2 separate regions of the Homo sapiens genome follow, and region 1 is linked to region 2. Evidence: fine-mapped expression QTL. A gene starts in region 2. The other region holds a variant in brackets. All regions are shown on one strand. Distances are between the middles of the regions.

What was found.
Region 1: its variant is fine-mapped to the expression of LINC02541 in sun-exposed skin (GTEx, PIP 0.94).

What each region holds. Positions count from the first base shown.
Region 1 is chr6:113,631,793-113,636,191 of GRCh38, reverse strand. The region is part of intron 1 of LINC02541 (long intergenic non-protein coding RNA 2541); the gene reads left to right. Among named protein-coding and RNA genes, the nearest start is that of LINC02541, 16 kb to the left of the region's middle. RefSeq lists enhancers at 1,222-1,271, 3,837-3,886. The variant G/A (reference allele first, on the strand shown) is at 1,989.
Region 2 is chr6:113,647,412-113,651,810 of GRCh38, reverse strand. LINC02541 (long intergenic non-protein coding RNA 2541) reads left to right here and starts at 1,736. Exons shown (of 3, transcript NR_125844.1): 1 at 1,736-1,796.

The DNA.
Region 1 (4,399 bases), 16 kb after region 2:
AAATCACTTTATTTGTAAAAGACTCATGTACAAAATACAGGCACTAAAAATACATACATCATACAGTTATTTGGAAACTCAGTCACTGTTACATGTTAATTATTATTATAGTTAGTTATCAGTTATTGAACTATCACTATTTTACCATGATTACACAAAGTCATGGAAAATAATTACATCCAGGAAGATCATAAAATGCCTTGACTTTATATACTGTGGTTTTATCAAATATATATTTAGTCTTCCAAAATATACAAATGTTTGGGCTTTGCAGAAAAAGATGCTTATTTTTCTTTTTCCATTCAGATGTTTTGACATCATGTAGACTCTAATGTTTATGTTTTGTTGTCAAGGTGCAATTAGAACCTTCCAAATTACCATCTAAGGTGTTCAAAGTTTTTTATGCTCACATTAGGTTTGACATTACACATTTATTAGTCACTTCAGTGCTGTTATGATTTTTGTATCATACAAAATTTGATGCCAAAGCCTTTATAGCAGATGTGTTCAACAGGAAAAAACTTTACAAGAAATTTTCATCTATGTTAGTCTCCCATAAATGTACTTCTTCTCGGTACACTTAATCTCTGTCTCCTTCAGCCTCTACCATCAAAATACCTCTGGCAAGGTCATCTCTCCTGCCCTGGAGACATTGTGCTACCCTGCTGATTCTGTAAGGAATTTGGTATTACAGTGTCTGGCCCTGTCCTCAGGCTCTCTGGTTACCTCTTCTCTCCAACTTTGGACCTGTCTTAGCATTCCTTAAATCCATCCAGGTATGGTTGGCTCTTCCTTGGTCCCAGCTGACTCAGTCCCAAGATCCTTCCCCAACATTGCCTCTGGCCTCAGAACCAGCATCTTTGCTCTTGCTTTTTTCACTTCCAACCAGGCATTCTTCTTGCATCAGTCTTTGTTTCCAAGAATTTCTCATTTAGTGTTCATTCTCATGTTCTATGGGAAATACACCTGTATCTTCCAAACTTGTTAACTCCATTTGGTTCTCTCCAATTTTGTAAAGACCCATTTTGTCTGAGAAAACCCTACAGCCTCCCTTGTCCCTTAGATATGATTCATCAATGGAATCTCCCTGCTTTTCCTTGTTTAAGTAAGTGCTAGAGTCTAATGTAACCCCACTGGGAATTTTCATAACTTCTTGTCAACTCTGAGGTTTACAAAATTGTTGAGCTCACTTCCTCATTTCAGTGATTGTGGAACTAACCCAACATAGAACCAAAATTTAGGGTGGCTGTCATTAGAATGATTTCTAAACAAAAGTGTGAATGATGTTGCTTGCCTGTCAGATAATTTATTCACTACTTTCCCCCACCCCAGCATTACCCCCTTAGAAATCAATAGGCTTTCTAAACGGGTTTCTCCCTTTCATCCTTCCTTCTCTGCCACACCCCCATCACCAACATTTCAGATCCTCTTAGCACATTTATTAGTCCATGAGGCCTCTTCCTGAAGGTCACACTAAGTGTTAATAGTGGTTTAGTGAGTTTCCCCAACCCACTAGGAATCTTTAGAAAAGCAAACAAATACACTTTTAAATGGGAAGTGAATTGAGTGGGGAGTGTACGCTCTTCAAGTAGGGGAATTTTGTGATTTGGGGCATGTAGGTGTAGAGTGAGTGTGAGAGGTTTAGTGCTTTCCTGTACCCATTTAACACCCGGACCCAGGCCCATATTTCTTTCACTGATTGTGCCAGACGTTTTATGTGTTCTTCCAACAGTACCAGTACTGAGTAATAGTACTCAAGTTTATCTAGAAACTCAAGTTATCACCATGTCCAAGTAAAAGAACCATCATCTCTGTTCAGCCTTGTCTCTCTTCTGTGGAATCTTCCCCATGTTGCATAACTATCTTGGAGGGAGACATGTTCTCTCCCATTTATATAACCTTGTTCTCTTCTAGAGAAACAGCTCTGTGTTAAAGACACTTGAGGGAAAATGGCATTACTGATGAGATGATATTTAGTTGTCCCTTCA[G/A]AGCCAAAGGGCAGTGATTCAAAAACATTTAGGGAAATAGAAGTAACTCTTTGTAAGCTAACCAAACAGTGACCTGAACTCTTTTACCTTGTGATTTCTTATGAGTGCTTAGTTTAGTCGCCTGAAGATCAATCTTGAAATTAACAGGCTATTTTGGATTATAACAAGATTATTTAGAGACTCAAACATTCCAGAGTTCCTTTAGTAGATGACTTCTATCATGACAAGCAAGCTAAAAGGTCAGTGGTCCCAAAGTGGGGTGCACATGATCTATTGAGGTACAGAAAAAGAGAATAATAAAAATATATAAATGTATCATTATTAATAAATATAATCTTTAAAAAGATGAATTTTTATGAATGATTTATATTATTCACAATAAATTAATAATGATTATGTCATTCATAAATAAAAACATAGATATATGGTAGTACATGCTTAAATTTTATTTAAACTAGTAAGAAGGTGGGATCAAATACAGTGAAAGTCTAATGGTTAGGTAACACTTTGGCTGTAATACCCTCTTCCCTCTAATCAATGCAGTATAATAAAGACAGGTTCTAATATCTCCTCCTGAAACTGGGAGGAATTTTAAACATTCTCCCTTCTACATCATCAGAACAATATAGTTTTACTTTCACTACCTTTAAAAACATTAAGGAAAGTAGAGAACAATATTCAGATTAGTTATAAGATCAATTTTCCTATCTCCTTCTATAAGTTTCTAGGATTTTGTATATTTGGTGTGTAACATACTAACTATGTTGTATTTTTCTGTGCTTTTAGTCACAAAAAGATCCTTGCTTAAAACAAACATTTTCTAAAGACATCAAAGGCCATGTAGAAAAACATAATATAAAAAGTATTTGCAAGCTGGGTGTGGTAGCTCCCATGTCTGTAATCCTAGCACTTTGGGAGGCAGAGGTGGGAGGATCACTGCTCCTCACCCACCTACAGGTGGCTCCCATGCTTGTAATCCCAACACTTTGGGAGGCAGAGGTGGGAGGATCGCTTGAGCCCAGGAGTTTGAGACCAGCCTGAGTAACATAGTGAGACCCTGACTCAAAAATTAGCTGGGCATGGCGGCTCATGCCTGTAGTGCTAGCTATTTGGTCTTGAACTCCTGGCTTCAAGCAATCCTCCCACCTCAGACTCCCAAAGTGCTGGGATTACAGGCATGAGCCACCACACCTGCCCTATCCTACCTATTTGGGAGGCCAAGGTGGGAGGATTGCTTGAGCCTGAAAGGTCGAGGCTTCAGTGAGCCATTATTGTGCCACTGCACTCTAGCCTGCATGGCAGAGCAAGATCCTGTATCAAAAAAAAAAAAAAAAAAAAAGAATTTACAGTTGTGTGCCATAGCTTATTAGCAACAGTAGAGAAATTATAGCACAATATTTGCTGATACCACAAGGGAACACATATTTGTGGTGTCTATCTTTCATGTGTTTTTATTTTAGGAAATGAATGCTGATGTTAGGCAACTTAATCCCTTCCTTGTGACTTTTGCTCCTATTTCCAAGCTGGGTATCTCTTACACAGGCATTAACAAGTAGGTTGACTGTCGGGACAAGCCCAGGGATGGCATTGTTTCTATTTGCTGATAAATGACTCTGGGGCTGTGAAGACTCAGACCCAAGGAGTGACTCAGAAAGTCAGGGGCCCATGTCATTCTGCTCTGGGTTCAGACGTGCACTGCAGCAGCACCGGGACTTGACAGCCCTACGGCTCGATCAGCTTTCTGTTTTCATTGCCTTACGATGCCATGAGTGGAACTATTGTCAAATCAGAGTTCACTCCCCAGCTTTTCAGTCTTTCCCCTAATTCTTGCTCTATCAGAGGTCGAGGACAACAGTATAATGATTCATAGGTTCTACTTCCTGGCAAGTAATCATTTTCCCACGGTGAGTAATGATTTATGCTGAGAGGGGTAAAGAATTGTGATTTGCTTTTTTCTGTGTGGCCTTTCTGCTGACAGAGGGTTGGCTAGGAATACTTTTTTTTTCCATTTGTAAGGCCATCTAGAAAATGTTTTAAAGCATTTTAATTTTTTAAACATAGGCTCTTTAAATATATATATTATTCATAGAGAACTGGAATAATCCCCTCATATACTTTGTTAAAAAACAAAGACAATTTTGAAATTTCCTTTTTTATGTTGGCATGTGAGGACTCGGTGTGCCTCATAGAAGTCAAGAGCTGTAGAGGCCCACTACAACCCCACTTTTTAGATGGGAACACTGAGACCTGGAGAAGTTACTTGAGTTGTCCATTTCCACAGAACTGGCTAGTGACAGAGACAGATTGAAGCTTAAATTAGCTCATCATAGGCTATGATTTTATCTAACTTTAGGCTTACTTGTACCATGTCATAAGGGGAAATCTAGGTTTAAAGAAGTCCATGACTTTCA
Region 2 (4,399 bases):
ATTTTTTTTTTCGAGATGGATTCTCGCTCTGTCCCCCAGGCTGGAGTTCAGTGGTGTGATCTTGGCTCACGGCAACCTCCGCCTCCTGGGTTCAGGTGATTCTCCTGCCTCAGCCTCCCAAGTAGCTGGGATTACAGGCATGTGCCACCACACCAGGCTAATTTCTGAATTTTTAGTAGAGACAGGGTTTCGCAATGTTGGCCAGGCTGGTCTCGAATCCCTGACCTCAGGTGATCTGCCAGCTTGGCCTCCCAAAGTGCTAGGATTACAGGCATGAGCCACCACACCCGGCCAAAATACCAAATTAAAATTTTAAAAACAAGGTAACAATGGAAGTGTTAGTCCATTTCAGGGGCTGATGCGCAAGTTAATTCTTGCCCTCTCCTCTTCTCTGTGGCTCTCCTCAGCTGGCTAGTGGCGGAGGCAGCTGTGTTATTTATATTCTGTGGCTGTCAGAGGCCTGCTCCGTGCTCCTCAACCCATGTGGTACCCCGATGACTTGGCCACAGTCCAGTTGTCACAGGATTCCACAGCAGCCTGATCCTTCTTGCACCAGTGGCAGGCCAGCCTGGGCTCCTTTGCCCCTCCACTTTGCCTGTGTGTACCTCAGATGTGCAGAAGCAGAACCTATTTTTCTATCTTGTATTTTAAGCTCTAACTCTAAACTACTACACAGCTCAAGACTAAGTAGGGCATTGTTAAATTCTGGATAGTGGTCTACAGATTTTGAGTGGCATTTAAAAAATACACTTTTAGCCCTAAATCTTGAAGTATCTCTGTCAGTCTGGGTCCTCTAAAAAGGACCCAGTCAAAATGGGATTAGATGAGCAAGAGATTTATTAGGAAAAACGGGCAGGGAGCATGAGGTGTCGGGGATGGCCTTCAGCCCCTGATGCGGGTCTGAGAAAGGAGAGCAAGAAGGAAGGACGGAGTTGGGAGGAGCCTCAGACCACAGTGCAGCTCTAAGAATGTCTCTGCCAGGCCAGTGAGGATCCCCCGGCTCCAAGACCTGAAGCTTCTCATTAGAGGAGTTCTGTGTCAGGCAGAGGTGGCCTGGTCCTATTATCCCCACTGCACTATGCCATTATCTGGGAGCAGCCCGTGGAAAGTAGCATCTGGTTTGAACGCTGCAACCAGCTTAAAGGTGGGGCATCAGAAGGCTGTTAGTCAGCTCTCTTCTCTGCTGCGGGTCCTCTGGAAGGAAGATTTGAATGGGGCACCTCCATGGTCACCACAGTACCCACAGGTGTACCCTTATATCCTAGGACCCTTGGCCTCACTCCGTCTGTTCTACTCCCCTCTCTAGACCAACTCATGGCAACGTGTAAAAGGAGGTGACTCATTCCCTTCCTAGGTTCTCAGTCCCCACAGAGAAAGTTTGGATAGGGAAGTTACACCTCTGGAGGCTCACCTTTGTTTGCCGCTATTTCCTAGCCAATAAAACCATTGCTTATTAAATCCTAATTCCACAGACATTTCAGTGCTGAAATTCCCTGCACTGAGTTAAATACAGAGGACGCAAGATAAATAAGAAACGTAAATGGGCTCATATCCTATAGAGGGTTATGTACACTTTAGCAGAAATTTTAATAATTTGATAAGAAGAGAAATAGACTGGATCAGAAGAGGACTCTCCTGACCAGCCTGGGAAAAGTCTGAGCAGAGTCTGCAGGGGCAAATACAACTTACTCAGACAAAAAAGGCTGTCAGCAGCAAGTCTAGGCAGAAGCCAGGAGGAGTTAGGAACAGACTATAAGAAATGGTTGGTCTGGAGGAAAAAGGGTAAAACTTATGAGGTAAGCAGTATACAAATTTATGCTTGCAAATTTCTTTTTTCTTTTTCCTTCCTATTCAAAGGTCAATGCTTCGAAACTTGTACTTAGTTTTGTCAATAGTGTCTCATGTGCATTTTCTGAGTGTGAAGAGGATTTGGGTAGGCAAGACTAGAGAACAGCAGGAAGTCATTGCCTATTAAATTTTTATTTCCAGCCATTCACTGATGTATTGGTAAGAGGACAGGAGTCCTGGGGAAAGACTGCCTCATTTACACTCCAAAGACTTGGGTTCTGATCTCCATGTCGTGGCTTATCATAGTGTAAGCCAGTTATGTACCTCTAGAAATGGAAGTTTCTGCTGTTTATAAACTGGAAATAATGATACATGTCCTGACTCCTATTGGGTTGTTGCAAAGGAATCAATTGAAATAAGACAAGACTTTCTGAAGGCACTTTGCCAACTTTCAGAACTGTAAAGATTAAGGGACTGCTACTATGTGCTGCTCAGGAAATAACAGGCACCTGGGAAAACCCACGAAGTAAGGTTTTGTAAGAAGTTGCTCTGCTCCCTGGGAGAAAACGCGGAGCTCAACACTGCCAAGAGGAACAAGTCTGGGAAATTACGACATGAGGTAAAGCAAATAGGGCTTTTCGTTTTGTTTTTGGATACCACAATTTCTTACATGTCGTTCTTATTGTTTACCCTTCCTCACCATTGGTGGTTTTGAAATGAAAGGAAATTGGGTTAGAGAGTATTAATAAAGCAAGGGAGATGGCTAAAATTTACTTGATGTAAAAATAAACCGAACCACTTTAGTGTGGGGAGAATCAAATACTACACATTCATTATGTGGAAAACAAATTCATCTTTGTGGTGAATCAGAAAACTTTTCTACTTTCATGGAACACTATCGGCTCCCCATCCTCTCACACTCCCTGGGAGAAATAGTAGTACATGATCAGATAAATATAACTTGCCCTAATGCTTCTCTGCTGAAAGATTTTAAAAAATCCCTCTCTTATTAGCTTTACTTTGTTGATGGTTTGCTGGACTCGCTATGAGAAGACCACTGAGAATATTATCAATCTACTCAATACTGATGAGAACCAGAGGCCACAGGCATTCTTATCAACATGTGTGTAAGGTCATGGAAAGTCTCCATGTCAACAGTCCTGCTAAAGTGGCCACTCCTGGAGTAGCAGTAATCTCCTAAATTGTCTATTCTCTAAGCATTTTTTAATAGAGAAATCAGCAGGAATATTTATATGAGTTCACCCAACTGGTTGATGCATACAAGGAAATTGCTGATAGCAATGTTAATTACTTTTTCTTGAATACTCATTCACAGGACAGGTTGATCTTTGCCATTTTACACAAACAAAAAATGAAATGACATCTTTTAGCCTATCATATAGGCTGTAAAAGATATTTTGGAAAATAATTTTCAAAAAAAGTGGGTGGACGACACTAGGGATTGACTCACTTAATATAAACAACAACCACTTCTGACTTGTCTTATTGAATTTTAGAGTATGGAAAGCTAACAATGTAATTCTCCCAAAGCTCTTGCAGTTTGAATTTGAGGAGTAAACTGGGCTCCATCATGCAAAGGCAAATATTAATTTTCTATTGCTGCACGCTCAGATTAAGCAACTTAAAATAACATCATTGTCTGGCTCACAGTTTCTGCAAATCAGGAGTATGGGCATGGATTAGCCGATCCTCTGCTCAAGCTCTCACAAGGCTTAAATCAAGATATTGGCCAGGGATGGGCCAGGCGCGGTGGCTCATGCCTGTAATCCCAGCACTTTGGGAGGCCAAGGCAGGCGGATCATGAGGTCAGGAGGTTGAGACCAGCCTGGCCAACATGGCTTAAACCCGTCTCTACTAAAAATACAAAAAGTTAGCTGGGTGTGGTGGAGGGCACCTGTAATCCCAGCTACTTGGGAGGCTGAGGCAGGAGAATTGCTTGAACCCAGGAGGCGGAGGTTGCAGTGAGCTGACATCACACCATTGCACTCCAGCCCAGGCAACAGTGTGAGACTCCATCTCAAAAAAAAAAAAAAAAAAAAAAAAAAAAAAAAGTTGGCCAGGGCTACAATCTTATCAGTTATCATTTTCAGGCTTTTTGGTTGTTGGCAGAATTCCGTTTCTGTGGTTGTAGGACTGAAGTCTTTGCTTTCTTGCTGGCTATCAATGAGGGATCATTCACAGCTCCTAGAGGCTTCTTGCCATTTTCTGCTACGTGGCCCTCTCCACAACATGGCAGTTTTCTCCTTCAAAGCCAACAGGAAAGTGACTTTGGCTTTGAATCTCTATTTTGTTTTAACTGCTCACCTGATTAAGTCAGGCTCACCCCAACATAATCTCACTCTTGATTAATTCACAGCCAACTAACTGGACACCTTAATTATATTTTCAAAACCCTTTTTTGCCATATAATAGAATGTAATTATGGGAGTGACATCCCATTGTATTCACATGTCCTGCTCACATTCAAGGAGAGAGTACTGTAGAGGGTGTGTACGTCAGGAAGCAGGAATCTTGGGGAGCATCTCAGAATTCTGCCTACCACAATGTGCTGCTTGGGGCAGAAGTAAGCAAGGTTAGGTAGCATACACAC